3 separate regions of the Homo sapiens genome follow, and regions 2 and 3 are each reported to be linked to region 1. Evidence: microRNA targets listed by miRTarBase, many of them from high-throughput screens and not tested one by one. Region 1 holds a microRNA gene; each other region holds the end of a gene's coding sequence.
What was found. Region 1 holds the annotated microRNA hsa-miR-3162-5p (UUAGGGAGUAGAAGGGUGGGGAG, at 1,235-1,257, opposite strand). A microRNA usually pairs through its seed, bases 2 to 8, with sites in the 3' UTR of a target mRNA and lowers its output. Matches are read on the target gene's strand: a 7mer-m8 pairs with bases 2 to 8, a 7mer-A1 pairs with bases 2 to 7 and ends in A, and an 8mer does both.

Region 1 (3,000 bases):
ATAAAAGCTGGGATGACAGGGACTAGAATTTCTGCAAACATAAGACCCAGGGGATTAACCAAAAAATCATCTCTTTCTTCAGAAAGGAAATGCGTTATGGTTCTGAGGTTCCTTTACCTGTTCACAGAGGGATCGGTACCCATTCTCCTCTAATCGGTCCAGCTCAAAGGTCTCCCCAAGCAGTGGGTTGAATGGCTTACTGGTGCGGAAGACAGTAGTGGAGTAGGAGGACACGGTGAAAGCTGCAACATAACAGAGCTGTTCTAGAGAATTCTCACATTTTGCAGCTCGGTCTAACAGCTCATGGTATTCCAGATCTTCAGTAAGGCGCTGAAGCATGGACAAGGGCTCATTAAAGTTTACCTGTAAGGAGAAGAACAGATATAAAAACTATGCTCACTCATCTATAAGAGACAGTTTAATTTTTTTTGCAGTTTAGGAAATAAATCACTGGGAAAAGAGGGCTTTGCTCAGTAGAGCGGCTCTAATATTTAACCCGCAAACAACCCATTCTCCTTGTCAACTGTTCATGTCTGTGAGTGGCAGAAATCACTGTTTTCATTTCACTAACTGTAAGCTCTTTGAGATGGGAACCATGCCTCTTCTGTTGAGTGCTACATACCCAAGATCCATCAGTGACTGGCCCACAGAAGACTATCATCAAATAGGTGTTGGATGAATAAGTTTTTTAAAAAAGAAATGCAATGTATTTTAGCACAAGTATACCCAGAGAGGAAATCAGGTATTTAAAATTCTTGGAGAATGAAAGAAACAGTAGTAAATTATAAGTACAGCTATATCCTGACTAGTTATAAAAGTTAGTTTCCACCCTGGACAAAACAATTGCTAAATCTCAGTTCAGTTCTGCATCAGGCCAGGATTCTGATTTCTCCTCTGAGGCTGGATAATTGTGTTTCTGGGAGTGAAGTGCTCATGATGGGGGTTGAGAGGGGGCTGTGCATGCTCTTACCTTTCTAATTCTGAAGCCAGCTTAAGGCGACCAAGTACTGGATAAAGCAAGCATGTGTGTGTTTATGTGTGTGTGCCAGGAATTGGGGGCTTCTGTTGGGGGAGATGTTCATTCATTCATTTATTCACTTACTCATTCCACAAATATTTATTGAGTACCCATGTGTGCCAGACCCTATGCTACCCACTGGATAGAGAGAAGTTAACAAGAGAAGCTGACTTTTTTGGGGAGTGGAGGGGTAGGGAGTGAGAAACATTGTTCATGCTCCCCACCCTTCTACTCCCTAAAAAAGTCAGCTTCAAAATTAACTTTGAAATTTTAAATGATTTTACTATGTAAAAATTCACTATAAAACAAGTCAGGTTCCCAAGTTAGTCCATAAAGCTTATTTAATTAACAATATAGATGAACAAGTCTAAATATTATTAGCCTGAGTTCTAAGTCCAGAGAACAAAAGAAGAAAGAAAAAATTCCCTTTTAGTGAATGGTTCTGGCCTTAAGCAACGCTTTACTTAAACAAACAAAAAAAACACAACACTTTTCTTTCTGATGTTCCATCTCTTTTGGCATTTTTGTTCACCCTTCTACCCACCAATCTCTGAGCTACATATTACCCTAATATTTGCTATCCCCCCACCGCCCGCTCAATCATGAAATTAATATCGTATAATTTTTAACTGTAAAAAACTTTGAAAACAAAGTATCAAGGAAAAAATTTTCTTGAAATGAGATCACCACTATTAACATTTTCAGTTTGTTTCTATACATTCATACATTTTTAAAAGTAATAAACTTGGCCACGTGTGGTGGCTCATGCTTACAATCCTAGCACTTTGAGAGGCTGAGGCAAGCGGATTGCTTGTGCTCAGCAGTTTGAGACCAGCCTGGGAAACATGGCAAAACACCATCTCTATAAAAAAAAAACACAAAAATTAGCACGGTGTGGTGGCGTGCACCTGTAGTCTCAGTTACTTGGGAGGCTGAGGTGGGATGATGGCTTGAGCCCAGGAAGCAGAAGTTGCAGTGAGCCAAGATCATGCCACTGCACTCCAGCCTGGGCAACAGAGCGAGACTCTGTCTAAAAATAAATAAATAAATAAATAAATAAATAAATAAATAAATAAATAAATAAATAAAATTCATAAACTAGAGCCTGCTTTTTCTCTGAGAAATATCCCAAATGTTTCTCTGTGAACATTTTCCAGTGAACACAGAGCCACAGAGCCAACAACACTCATCCTTTGAGAAATAGGACCCACCAAAACAGTGTGCCATACCCCAGAGCCCTCTTCCCTACACTGAAAGACAAGCAGTATGATGACACAAATGCACACTGAGGGGTGGCGCGCTGCAAAAGCCATAATCCTCGATTCTTTTTAAAGAGGGCACTTATTAACTACACCCAATAAAATCTGTCCGTGGCAGAATTTAGACAATACGAAGTAACATTTCCATACATTTTGAGGAAAACTGGGGACAGGCAGTGTACTCCACTGGTGGTACTAGACATACCAGCAGTGCATGGGACTAGAATCAGCACATTGCTATCACTGCTTTTCACACACACACAGCCTTGCCCATCAACAACCAGTTTCTCCAAAAGTGCCAAGCTTCTTATAATGGTCATTTTATTACTCAAAAGCCAAACAGGGAAAGAAATGAGTCTGAGTATTTAAAGTAGAAGGAAGCAGGGAGCTATACAGCTGATGAAAAATTAGGCACCCAAAAAAAAAAAAGACAACCCAGAGATTAGCAGCAACAGGAAGCCATAACCATTGGTAGGGTGGAGAGATGGGGAGAAGCAGCAGTATTACTACAGCCTAGAGGTGGGGGTCCAAGAGAGGAGGATCAGGAGAATGTAAAACATCAAGGCAGGGGAGGCCTCTCCAGTGAAAACTAGAGCCACGTAGGTGCGCCAGAGCACCACTCAAGAGGGCATAGAGGGAGAGACTTCCCACGGCTATAACCTCCTACTGGTATCTTGCATTAGTGAAGCCCAGCCAGACTCCAGTAGCCACGGAAGCCTGAAA
Region 2 (3,108 bases), not on the chromosome of region 1:
TGTTAAGACTCATTTGATTTGGGGGGAATTATTGGGGACAAGACTTTTAAACTGCCTCCATAGGCCTGTAAGCAATATAGATAGCTAAAATAATTGACTTTTTAAAAACTTGATAAAAAATATTTCAGTATATATTTTAAAACATTATTATTAAAAAAATACAGTGCCATTGTTAAAACATTTTTATAATTATTGTTTATAAAATATCTAATCAGTTAAAATAACTGACTTTAAGAGTCTAATTGTGATATAGATAGCTATTTTAATAATTTTCATGTCACTATTAATATTTCCTTTCTAGTCAAATTGTGAATGGGAAACAGTGGTTTATGGGAAGACAGAAGACCAACTTATTATGACTGAACAAGCAAGAAGATATCTGAGTACTTACACAGCTACCAGTAGTACTTCAAGAGCTCTCATACTGTAATTGTTATTAAAATTGATGAAATGCCCCACTCCCTTACTGCAGTCTCTACTAAATTAGGTTGCAGTGAAATTTTTCTCAATTAGTTGTTTTTAAAGTTGTAAGATAGCCCTTTTAATACAGCATCTTTTTTCTATTCTATATAGTAGGCAGAAAGCTAGTAAGTCACTTAAGGGGTAGATAGTTTCATAGTTTATTTTTTAAGAGATGAGATTTTTAAAAATTGTTTTTAAAGAACAAGATGGGAAAATAATAGAATGTTCATGGATTTCTAAAAGTAAATTCTCATATATTTTCTTCACAAGATATATGTTGCTACTCTCTTGATGCTGCAGTTTTGTTATAGATAGGTGTATGAGTATATATGATTTCTGAAATTAGTCTATGTATGGAAAGCACACATGATTTTATGAAGTACTTTTGCCCATGTGCTGATTTACTTAGGCTACCATTTACAAAGAAACACATTGAAAAGGAATTTAAAGGAAGGATAGAAAGTTGCACTACTAATTTTTTGTTTTTTTTTTCAGAAGCAGTAAAATTAACTACAGTGTTAAATGTATTTATTTGAGCATAGTACTGAAAACAAAAAGCATTCAAAAAAGAGTTTTTTCTTTATTAGTAAATAGTATTTTCTTAATCTCAGAGGAGCTGAGAGTTTTGTTGAATGTATTGTACAGTATGTAGGAGCAGGAGAACTTTGTAAATTGGAAAGAAGTCTGTTTTTATAATTTATTTTTATTTTTAAAGCTTAAATGTAGATATTTATACGTATACAGGGTGCCTAGAAGCCAATGTTGTTTCCTGTTATTACAGCTAACACAGTAAAGAATAATTTTGACTTTAAGTATGAAACAGTAGTAAGTTATAGCTGCAAAGAATACAATATCTATACTGTATGTCACATCTACCTAAATGTTGCACTATGCCCTTTAAATCATGCTGGTTATAAAGTAGTTCTAAAAATGTACTAAATAATAATTTAATATTTTCTTTTTAAATTATATCGGGGGTGGTCATATACATTAATCTGGTGATTTGTATATGTGTTTGAAATTTTTGCATTTTGTTTAAAAAATAATATGGTACCTTGGTCCCTAAAAACAGTCTGCACTTAGAAGTTTATATTTACTCAGTGTTTCAGAAGTGGAGAACATTATCTTTTATTTATAAAAATATTTTGTCCTTTTTTAAATGTTTTGTGTTTCTCTACAGGTTACAACAGTTGCTTCAGTTGCCTGTTTTAGGTGTTTGCACTTATTTTATTTCTTCTTGAAAGAATTTTTATTTGCTTTTGTGGTAGAGATTATATGTAATTTTTTTTCAGTCATATAATGGTGTGCTGTCAACTTAAACACTGACAGGTAAATAGAATTGTACACTGTAGTTTGAATTATTTATAATTGACACACTCTCTCCCTCTCCACTCCTGAAGTATGCTGCTATAGAAAATAGCAGAATCGGCTTGCTGCTACGAGAGAAGGAAAGAGCGACCACCACTTGCACTGTGTGAAAAGATAAAAAACAAATGATGGCAAGTTCTCAAGTTAACTAAATGGAATCAACCATTACCAGGCAAATTCTTGCAAATACCAAAATACTACTATGCCTTATAAAACAAAATGAAAGCAGGTTAAGATTTTCTGCTCTGTTTGTATGTTAATAGAAATGGAAATACTAAGTATTTTAATGCTTAGCTCTTGAACAGTAGACCTAAAAGGGTTTTAAGCTATTTAAATCTACTTGCTAGTTTTTGCATATTTTATATATATATATATTTATATATATATATAGTGAGAAGTGAAGAAAATGTATGGTACTAAGATTATGCCTTATTGATAAATAGATAAACCAATTTGAATCCTCTTAGCATGTTTAAGTATGTTGATTGCTTTCTAATTAATGAACTTCTCACAGAAATTTCACTTAGTGAAACCAATGATTGTAGCAAACTCATACTGGATCATTTCAGTTACCTTGAACTAATAGCACATAATGGTTTTTTGTTGTTGTTGTTTTTAATGTAGCCCTTACCTGGATATACATAGTCTGCAATCACCAAAGTATAATATCTTGTAAGGCTATATTTTTTAAAGCATATTTTTTCTTGAGCATTAAATTATCCTAAATGGTAATATATTGTGGATAAGTCTGGGCTTATTGGACATAATACATATTTGGGTTGGTACTGGTTGAATCCTTCAGTTAACTGCTTTGTTGCTTTTTGCAAGATTTTTTATCTTAAACATGTCAGGCATCTTAAGTCACCTTTATACTGTTTTGTTCCTCTGAGTTTCTTTCAGTATGTTATACAAATGCCAGACATAACATGTAGCAGCCATACTTGCATGGAAACTGACTACACATACATAATACTGCATTTTATTGTAAGGTTTTCACATTAATACAGCAATTACCCTGACTAAATTGAGTTTTGTGATATATGGAAAACTTCATTGTAAGAGAATCTTGCATACAATGTTGACATATTAACATCCAAAATAAAGCATCTGTGTACAAGCTGACTTGGCATTGCTCATTCACTTGGTTTTGTGCTTTATAAGGACTGATAGAATCCTTAGAGACTTAACATTCTGTTCTTAGGCCTTTTTTCTCATTTAGAACTCTCTTTACGGTGATTTTACCAATAAATACAACATTGCGCCTTTATAGAGCCTCAT
Region 3 (3,108 bases), not on the chromosome of region 1:
TGCTGGGGCATGTGGGCTGTGGCCAGGAGAATAATGAGGGCCTGAGGAAATTGTGGAAAGTTAGAGGGAAGGGTGGAAGTGGAGTGGAATCAGAGACTCCAGTAAACCATGGAAGGGTTCAGAGGGTCAGGGTGGGATAAGACAAGGCTAGTGAATGAAGGGGCATGGCCGTTGGAGCAGTGAGAGGGGGTTTTGTTACTAAGGTTTCTGGGATGGAGTAAGTGTTGAGTATGGTGGCTGGAGACCCAGGAGGGTCAGGAAGTCATCACTGGAGTACTGGTTCTGGATACAGGAACGTGGTCAGGCCGGGTGCTGGTGTTTGACATCCCAGCAAAGGGTCCCAACATTGTACTGAGCGAGGAGCTGGCTGGGCACCAGATGCCAATCACAGACATTGCCACCGAGCCTGCCCAGGGACAGGTGAGTGGACTTCCCCTACCCATCTGGGAGCCTTCCCCACCCTGGGAGGCAGGGGACCTGGCTTTGAGTCTTGGCTCTGCCACTAAACAGGTGGATGGCTTTGGGCAAATCTACATTTTCCTAGTCTTCAGCAACCAGGTTCAGTGATAAAGCCAGAGATACTTTACATTTATGTAGTATTTTATAGTTAATTAAGACTTTATAATACTGATGTGAAATGAGGAGTTGGAACAAATGGTTTCTAAGATACTTTCCAGCTCTGAAATGTGCAGCTTCCTTCTCTAGGGCAAGTCCCACCTATTCAGGCCCAGCTCCAGTGCCATCCATCCTCTCCAGGAAGCCTTCCCCATATTCTAGCTCCCACTGATGTCTCTTAGCTGAAACCTGAATTGGCACTGCCCTCAAAAGACAACTCTTGTCTCCCCAAGTAATTTGCAAACCTCTTGAGAACAGGGTGTATATTTTCTTATTCATATTCTCCATTGTACCTGGCATAGGGCTAGGCCCATAGGTTGTGTTGGCTGCCTGGTGTTGGGGGTGCAGGGGCCCAGGGTCTAGTCATGACTGTGACTGGTTCACTACGAGACCTCCAGAAGGTCACGACACTGTGGCCTCAGTTTTATCATCCATCCAGTGAGGCAATTATGCACCCCCTCCTAATGTTATTGGGGGATGGGACTCCATGAAGAAATTCAAGGAAAGCAGTTCATGCTTCCCAAGGGAACCCTGGTGGTAGGGGTGGTTTCTGATGGGTCTAGCTAGTGAGAGCTCCACACCTTGCCCTTTCCCTGGAGAGGCAAAGATGCACACACTGCCTCCCTTCCCCTCCTGCCCTGTATACAGGACCATAGCAGGGGAGAAAGGGAAGGGTTGATCTTGCCTTTCCCTTCAGGATTGTGTGGCTGACATGGTGACGGCAGATGACTCAGGCTTGCTGTGTGTCTGGCGGTCAGGGCCAGAATTCACATTATTGACCCGCATTCCAGGATTTGGGTAGGTGAGGCAGAAAGGGTAGAGGGCTTCCTGAGATAGCTTCAGGCTGGGGAGTAGGATTTGATCTGGGCAAAACAAAGTTGGGTGTCACCCTTGCAGAGTTCCGTGCCCCTCTGTGCAGCTGTGGCAGGGGATCATAGCAGCAGGCTATGGGAACGGACAAGTGCATCTATATGAGGCCACTACAGGAAATCTACATGTCCAGATCAATGCCCATGCCCGGGCCATCTGCGCCCTGGACCTGGCTTCTGAGGTGGGCAAGGTAAGTCTCCTCCTCTGTACCTACATACCCTTTTTCCTGGCAGTGGAATGTTGAGAGAACACCACAGGCTTGTCTTTGCAACTCAGTGTAGCCCCCTCCCCTGGGGCACCTGGACTGGGGATTCCAGCTTATAGCTGTCCCGTCAGGGCATTCTGACTCCCCCTCTTCCTCCTCCACAGCTACTCTCTGCAGGTGAGGACACCTTTGTGCATATCTGGAAGCTGAGCAGAAACCCAGAGAGTGGCTACATTGAGGTATGTGTCATGGGGTGGGTGGAATGGGGGGGCCCAAGCATGGGGCAGCAGGCCCTGACGAGCCCTCTGCTCCCCCAGGTGGAACACTGTCATGGTGAGTGTGTCGCCGACACCCAGCTGTGTGGTGCTCGATTTTGTGATTCCTCAGGCAACTCCTTTGCTGTGACTGGCTATGACCTTGCGGAGATCCGGAGATTCAGCAGTGTGTGAGAAGAGCAGCCTTCCTTTGTCCCTGTGGTATTCATAAAGTACCCGCTCCACCCAGCCTTTGTCTGATTACTCAGTATCACAGTCATGTTTCACAGCTGGTGAACTATGCTCCAGGGATGATGTGAGGCAGGTCTAGACCAGGCAGAGAGAGGCACCCTGTCCTCAGGAGCCAGGTGAAGGCTGCTGTTAAATAACTTTAATGGTTGATGTGGGAGTCACAAGGGAGGTATGTTTGCTCCAAGGGTTCTTCAGTGCCATCCTCAAAGCTGGTTAGTGCAGGGAGGTAGGGCAGAGTTGGTTCCAGTTTTCTTCCAGGAAGGGTTTAGGGAGGTCCCAGCGAGCCCCAGGAATGAGTCCCTCGGTACCATGGCAACCACAATTTAAGAGGGGCTTCTGCCCACCCCTGCAGCCTACCCCAGGTCCAGCAGAGGAACAGGAGGCCAGACTGGCCAACTTGCTATAGACAGCGCCGTATCCAGAGCCCAACTGCGCATGGGTCATTTTCTCTTCTGGGCAGATCCTATGCCAGCACCTTTCTCTCTCACACTGGTGACTGGAGCCAAGTGCGAGGTTGGCCTTTGCTGCAGAGGCCTCTGGTCCGTGGGGATCGCTGAGGTGGGAGGGGGGCAACCGAGCGAGCCCTAGGGGAGTGGTCTGGGGGGACAGCATCCAGGGAAAAGGTTCGGGGTCTCCCCCAGGGCAGGGGGTGGGTCCAGTCTGGGGCTGGGGCCACTGAGGCAGGCGAGCAGGGGTTAGGCAGGGCAGGCTGGTCTGTAAACATTGCCAGCCAGGGTGGGGGTGTCTCCAGCCTTGCGCCCTCCCGCTGGGTCAGGATGTCTGTCACCGCTGCGATGTCATCCAGCGGCTCAATAGCTGTGGCACCAGGAAGGGGTTGGGGGAGGGTTGGGCTAGTCAGAGCTCAGGCCCCAAGCCTACCCAGCCCTATCACCTGTCACTGTAATAGGAGGA

Region 2: miRTarBase lists MYBL1 as a target of hsa-miR-3162-5p. Seed matches in the 3' UTR shown: 7mer-A1 at 1,522-1,528.
Region 3: the mRNA of RTKN is a reported target of hsa-miR-3162-5p. Seed matches in the 3' UTR shown: 8mer at 2,462-2,469.

Annotation. Positions count from the first base shown.
Region 1 is chr11:59,593,893-59,596,892 of GRCh38, forward strand. MIR3162 (microRNA 3162) reads right to left here and starts at 1,266; the gene lies at 1,185-1,266. It overlaps OSBP (oxysterol binding protein), which reads right to left. Exons shown (of 14, transcript NM_002556.3): 8 at 118-363.
Region 2 is chr8:66,562,019-66,565,126 of GRCh38, reverse strand. MYBL1 (MYB proto-oncogene like 1) reads left to right here. Exons shown (of 16, transcript NM_001080416.4): 16 at 302-2,952. The coding sequence ends at 430. Among named protein-coding and RNA genes, the nearest start is that of MYBL1, 50 kb to the left of the region's middle.
Region 3 is chr2:74,423,563-74,426,670 of GRCh38, forward strand. RTKN (rhotekin) reads right to left here. Exons shown (of 12, transcript NM_001015055.2): 12 at 2,273-3,012. The coding sequence ends at 2,681. It overlaps WDR54 (WD repeat domain 54), which reads left to right. Exons shown (of 10, transcript NM_032118.4): 6 at 293-420; 7 at 1,313-1,413; 8 at 1,513-1,675; 9 at 1,855-1,929; 10 at 2,008-2,193. The coding sequence ends at 2,139. Among named protein-coding and RNA genes, the nearest start is that of WDR54, 3.4 kb to the left of the region's middle. RefSeq lists an enhancer at 2,878-3,108.